2 separate regions of the Homo sapiens genome follow, and region 2 is linked to region 1. Evidence: fine-mapped expression QTL. Tissue or cell type: whole blood. Region 1 holds a variant in brackets; the other region holds the start of a gene. All regions are shown on one strand. Distances are from middle to middle.

What was found. PIP is the estimated chance that this variant, and not a neighbour inherited with it, causes the effect.
Region 2: DLGAP4 starts here. The variant in region 1 is fine-mapped to the expression of DLGAP4 in whole blood (TOPMed, PIP 0.95).

The regions. Positions count from the first base shown.
Region 1 is chr20:36,439,684-36,442,437 of GRCh38, forward strand. DLGAP4 (DLG associated protein 4) reads left to right here. Exons shown (of 13, transcript NM_001365621.2): 5 at 71-185. Among named protein-coding and RNA genes, the nearest start is that of MYL9, 100 kb to the right of the region's middle. RefSeq lists a silencer at 1,792-1,989. The variant C/A (reference allele first, on the strand shown) is at 1,470.
Region 2 is chr20:36,305,207-36,307,706 of GRCh38, forward strand. DLGAP4 (DLG associated protein 4) reads left to right here and starts at 1,133. Exons shown (of 13, transcript NM_001365621.2): 1 at 1,133-1,306.

The sequences.
Region 1 (2,754 bases):
GGTCAAGGCCTCCAAAAGCTGGGTGAACAATGGGTGGGCTGAGCCCTGTCTGCTCCCCACTCCCCACCAGGAGTCTGGACCGCCTGGATTCAGTGGACATGCTGCTGCCCTCCAAGTGTCCGAGCTGGGAAGAGGACTACACCCCCGTCAGCGACAGCCTCAACGACTCCAGCTGCATCAGCCAGGTGAGGGTGGCAGGGAGGCTGGAGAGTCAGGGGGCTTGGGTACTGATTCCCATCTGGGAGGAGGACACACGCCCAGGCCCAGCCCATGCTGAGTGGCCCCCAGATGTCTGCACTGTGCTTCTGTTTGGTCCTTGTTCCTGAAGCCTCCTGTGTGTGTCTCTGCCCCACCAACTGTCCTGTGGCTGGAGAGCACAGTTACGGGGCCTGACCCAGGACCCCACACCACCACTGTAAACACAGGCTGCCAGCGGGGCGCCTGTCACTTCTCATTGGGTTCAGAACCATGAGGATAAGGAACTGGAGACCTAGGTTCGAGTCCCAGTTTTGTCACTTGACAGTATGAACCCAGGATAGTCACCTCCCCTCCCTGAACCTCGGTTTCCTGATTTACCAGAGGAGGGTGAGCATTTCTATCTGGGGGCTGTTGAGAGGAATAAGTGGGATCGTGAAGGCGGTGTGCTCAGCAGAGGGTAGCTGCCTTCCTGGTTATTATTAGCATCTTTTGTGACCTCCAGCAAGTGACTGCTCACTTTGAACCTCTGTGCCACCTACTCAGTGGGCAGTTGTGCTCCCAGGCGCAGCCAGCCCTGCCTGTGTCAGTGAGGAGCATACTGGGCTGAACGTTGAATTTGCATGCCACCCTCTCAACCATCAGCTCCTTGAGCCCTTAACCACCCCCAGAGGTGGCCTTGTTATCCATATCCCCATTTCATAGGTGAGGCAACTGAGGCTCAGAGAGGTGAAGTCATCATGCAGCTAGGAGAAGACAAAGTTGGGCAGGGATCTGGGGCTGTCCAGCCCAGACCTGGACCTCAGCTCCTGCCGTGTACTCGGCACTTTAGGGTTTGCAAAGGGAGAACCAGGCAGGACTAAAAGGCACCCCCCATCGTGTGGATGGGGAGATGAGCCCCCCGAGAAGGCAGACACCTACTGGTAGTAGCAGTTAGGCAGTGGGGCGGCCAGGTGCGGGTCCAGCCTCCTCTCAGCAGGAACAGGCCACTGTGTGCAGGCCCAGGACCACGGCTAGAGGACTGCTTAGAAGGCTTTGGGACCCCGACTCCTCACAACTCCATTATTCCTGGCCTAGCCAAGCTCCTTCCCCAGCCCCTCAGACATGGGGAGGGGTAGAGTGCCGCAGCCCAGGGAGCCCCCTGCCCCTGCCCCCCTCATCCAGACTCCACCAAGTCACACCTGAACAGCCGTCCTCCAATCCATACTCAGTGGCCAGAGGGAGCTGTCAGAGCCACACCCCTGCTCCAGACCCTCCCTTGGCTCCCACCTCCC[C/A]CTGAGGGAAAGCCAGAGTCCTTACCTGGACCTGTGAAGCCCTGTAAGACCTAGGCCCTGCCTCCCTGTTGGATCCTGTCCCTTGCCCTGCTCCAGCCATGCCGGCCTCCTTTCTGCTCCTTATATACGAGTGTGCCATGTCATTCTGCTCCAGGCCCTCTGCATTTGCTGTTTCCTCTTCCAGGGGCTCTCTTCTCAAATCTTTGCACAGCTGGCTCCTCCTGGCGTTTCAGGTCTCTGCTCGAATGTCACTTCCTCAGAGAGGCTGCCTGTGATCACTTGTCTAAAGTAGCCTTCCCAGGCGCTGTTCCCTTACCCTGCTGTTCCCTTACCTTATCACTGCCTGGAACTAGAATCATTTGCTTATTTACTTAATGCTGTCTCCCTCTTAAAACTAGGATCTCCTGGGAGCGGAGGCCTTGCTGTCTTGTTCCCTGCAGTGTCCCCAGTACCTGGCACAGTGCCTGGCACAGGGCAGATGCTTAGTAGGTGTTTGCTGAATGGACGGCATCCCTCCCTGTCTCTCCCATCCCACCACGTTTTCTCGTCTCAGTCTTCCTGTCTGTGTCTGTCTCCGTCTGTTTCTCTCTCTCTGTTCTCTCTCCCCTCATTCACATTTTTCTCTGATTCTCTCCAGCGTGTCTCCATCTCCATGTCTCTCTCTGTGTCTGTCTGTCTCTCTACACATCCCATCTCCACCCCCGCCTGGGCCTGGCACCCAGGACACCTTTGTCCTTTAACTACACAAAAAGGCTTATTAATCGGCCAGGCTGGGGGCCGCAGCAGGTCTCACCCACCACCCGCTGCCCAGTCCCAGTTCTCTCCTAGTCCAGGATCCTCTGACCCCTCACAGCCTCAACTCTAGAAGTTTGAGTGACCCAAGCCATATATTTGGCCCCAAAGTCAGAGATATTCTAGCCTGGGGAAGAGCAGGCTCTGGGCTCCATCCCTAATCTGTATCTCCAGGTGGGCTGCCTGCCAGATGAGAGGCAGCAGACAGAGGATCCATGGTCCCAGGGCCCAGACCTAAAGAAGGACTTTTATTTATTTATTTATTTTGAGATGGAGTTTCGCTCTTGTTGCCCAGGCTGGAGTGCAATGGCGCGATCCCAGCTCACTGCAACCTCCGCCTCACGGGTTCAAGCAATTCTCCTGCCTCAGCCTCCCTAGTAGCTGGGATTATAGGCATGTGCCACCATGCCCGGCTAATTTTGTATTTTTAGTAGAGATGGGGTTTCTCCATATTGGTCAGGCTGGTCTCGAATTCCCAACCTCAAGTGATCCA
Region 2 (2,500 bases), 130 kb before region 1:
GTTCTGGAGAAAGGAAATATGGGTAGACTAGTAGGGAGTGTGAGAAGCTGGGGTACGAAACAGATTGCTCTGGGCCTTGATGGATGAGTAGGAGTTTGTCAGGTAGAGAGGTGGGAGGGCATGGCAGGCACAGGGAAAGGCAGAGGCTGGGCACTGAAACAGTCATCACTGGGTTGGGGATGTGAGCAGGGTGGGTGGGTGGTGGAGGAGACTGGAACAGGGCTGTGAGGAGCCTTGCAGGCCACCCTTTCACGCCATTCTGACCCTTCTGCATTCAGAGGCATTCTCTGGAGATGGCTGTGTGTGGGAGCCAGAGAAGGCAGGCACATTCATTTGACACCTACTGAATGCCAGGCACCGGTAAAGAGCTCATACCCATGATCTCTTTGGTTTCTCACCCAAGTTGGGGATAGAGACTCGTGGTGTCCCCATTTTACAGGTGGAGGAATGGGGCTCAGAGAGGGACAGTCTTTTGTCTGTAACCACAGAGCCAGGAGAGGCAGGGCTGGTACGCAGTTCAGGTTCATCCCACTCCAGAGACTGCATTTAACCCCCGTTCAGCCAGAGGCTAGAAGACACCTGGGAGAGGGTTCTGCGGAAGCAGGTCACCGGGAGGGGGCACCCATTCCTAGAGGCAGGAGCCCCAAGTTCTCGGGGGTGGGGTGGTTCCTGACTGGCGCGGTGTGACCCGGGCCAGTCTCGTTCTCTCTGGGCCTCAGTTTCCCTCCTCCACGGGGCGGCGATGGTCAACACAGGTTCCTGCCGGCCCGCCCCGTAGCCTGGGGTTCCAGGCTCCCGTGCCACCGCGGCCCGCGCTGTGTGACCTTGTTCCAGTAGCCTGCCCTCTCTGGACTGGCGGCCCCGGATTTCCAAGCGCTCTTCCGGATCGCGACAGAGCGGTCGCCCGCTGCGGAGACCCTCCCCCTTCCCCCGGGTTGCGGGGGCGTGGGTGGGGGTGGGGCGCCAGGAACGGCGCGGGCCCCCCCAAGGCCCCCCCAGCCCCGCGCCCGCGGCCCGATCCGCGCCTGGTTTTGGGCGCAGCCGCACGGCCCCCTCCCCCGCGCTCCTCTCCCCTCTCCCCGCCCCCTCCCCGCCGCTCTCGGGGAGCCGGGGCCGCACGGCTCCTCCTCCCGCAGCCGCATCTGGGGCGCCGCGCCGGCCGGAGGAGAGGCATGGGGCGCCCGCGGGCCGGAGCCGGGGCGGGGGCCGGGGCCTAGGCGCGCGGACCTGCGAGCGGACCCGAGAGGCGGCGGCGGCGCAGCGGAACGGCAGAGCGGGCCGGAGGCGGCCGAGGCGCCCGGCGCAGGTGAGGGCGCGGGGGTGGCGCGCGGCGGCTCCTACCCCCTTCCCGGGCCGGCGCGCTCCGTCCCTCGGCTAGACCCCCCGATCTGGTCTCCTCCCCGACAGACCTCCCTGAACCGGGGGACGGCGCTGGCGCAGAAAAGCCCCCTCCCCTGCCAGTTCTGTCTTCCGATCCCGGGTCCGAGGGGCCGGCTGTGCGGCTGGGAAGCGCCTTCTCCGGTTGGGATCGCCCCATCCATGTCTCCCCGGACCCTCAAATCGGGGGCGGCGGCACCGGGGCCCGGAACCCCTGTCCGGGACCGGATCCCCATTCCGGCTCTTTTTCCCGCGGACTCCCCCGTACCCCATATCAAGCGGCTGCCAAAGCCTGGAAGCCCCCTCCTCAGGCCCGCCCCCTAATCCGCAGGGCGGCCTGGGGGTCAGGCGGACCCCTCCCGTGCCCGGCCAACCTTGGCGCTTGGGAGAGCAGGGCTATGCCGGCCCGGGCATTCCTCCATTCAACCCAGCTGCCTCGGATCCCGTCTCGGTAGACCCGGGAGCCGCCGGCTCCCCCCTTCCCGAGCTCTTTCCCTGACCTGGCATCTGGGGAGGGGGCGGGGGCAGCACCCCCCTCCCGCGCTGCATAGCGCCCCCTCCCTGTTTGCGTCCCTGGGAGGGGCTGGGCTGACCCGGGCACCTGGGCTGGGGGGGCACTCACATGGCTACCGGAGGCCCCCACGTGCGGCGCCCCGCGGAGACAGGGGTTCGCGTTCAGAGCTGGTGGCGGATGGACCAGGTGGCCGCGGGGACCAGCTGGGTCCAGATGTGCTGGGCCTGCTGGAAGGGGACAGGTGCTACCTGGACGTGTAATGGCCCTTGGTCTCTTTTGGCCGAACCTGCCGCTCCGATCCCCCTCCATCCCTTCATCCCTCCATCCCTCCATCCCTCCATCCCTCCGGCCCTTCTCCCCTTCTTCCTCCGCTGCCTGTGTTGCAGAGAGGGGCTGTCAGAGACTGTTGATGTGGGAAAAAATGAAATGGGGGAGGGGTTGTGATTGGCAAAGGCCAGTTGTGCCGGGAGCGGTGGGTAGAGGAGGTGCCCTGAGAATGGGAAGCCCTAAGCTTGGAGGGCAGCGCTGATGGGGAGAGGGTTCCTGGCACCCCCACCTGCCTGGAAGTGGAAATGACATAGCGGGAGGGGGCTGCAGTTCCAGCCCCCG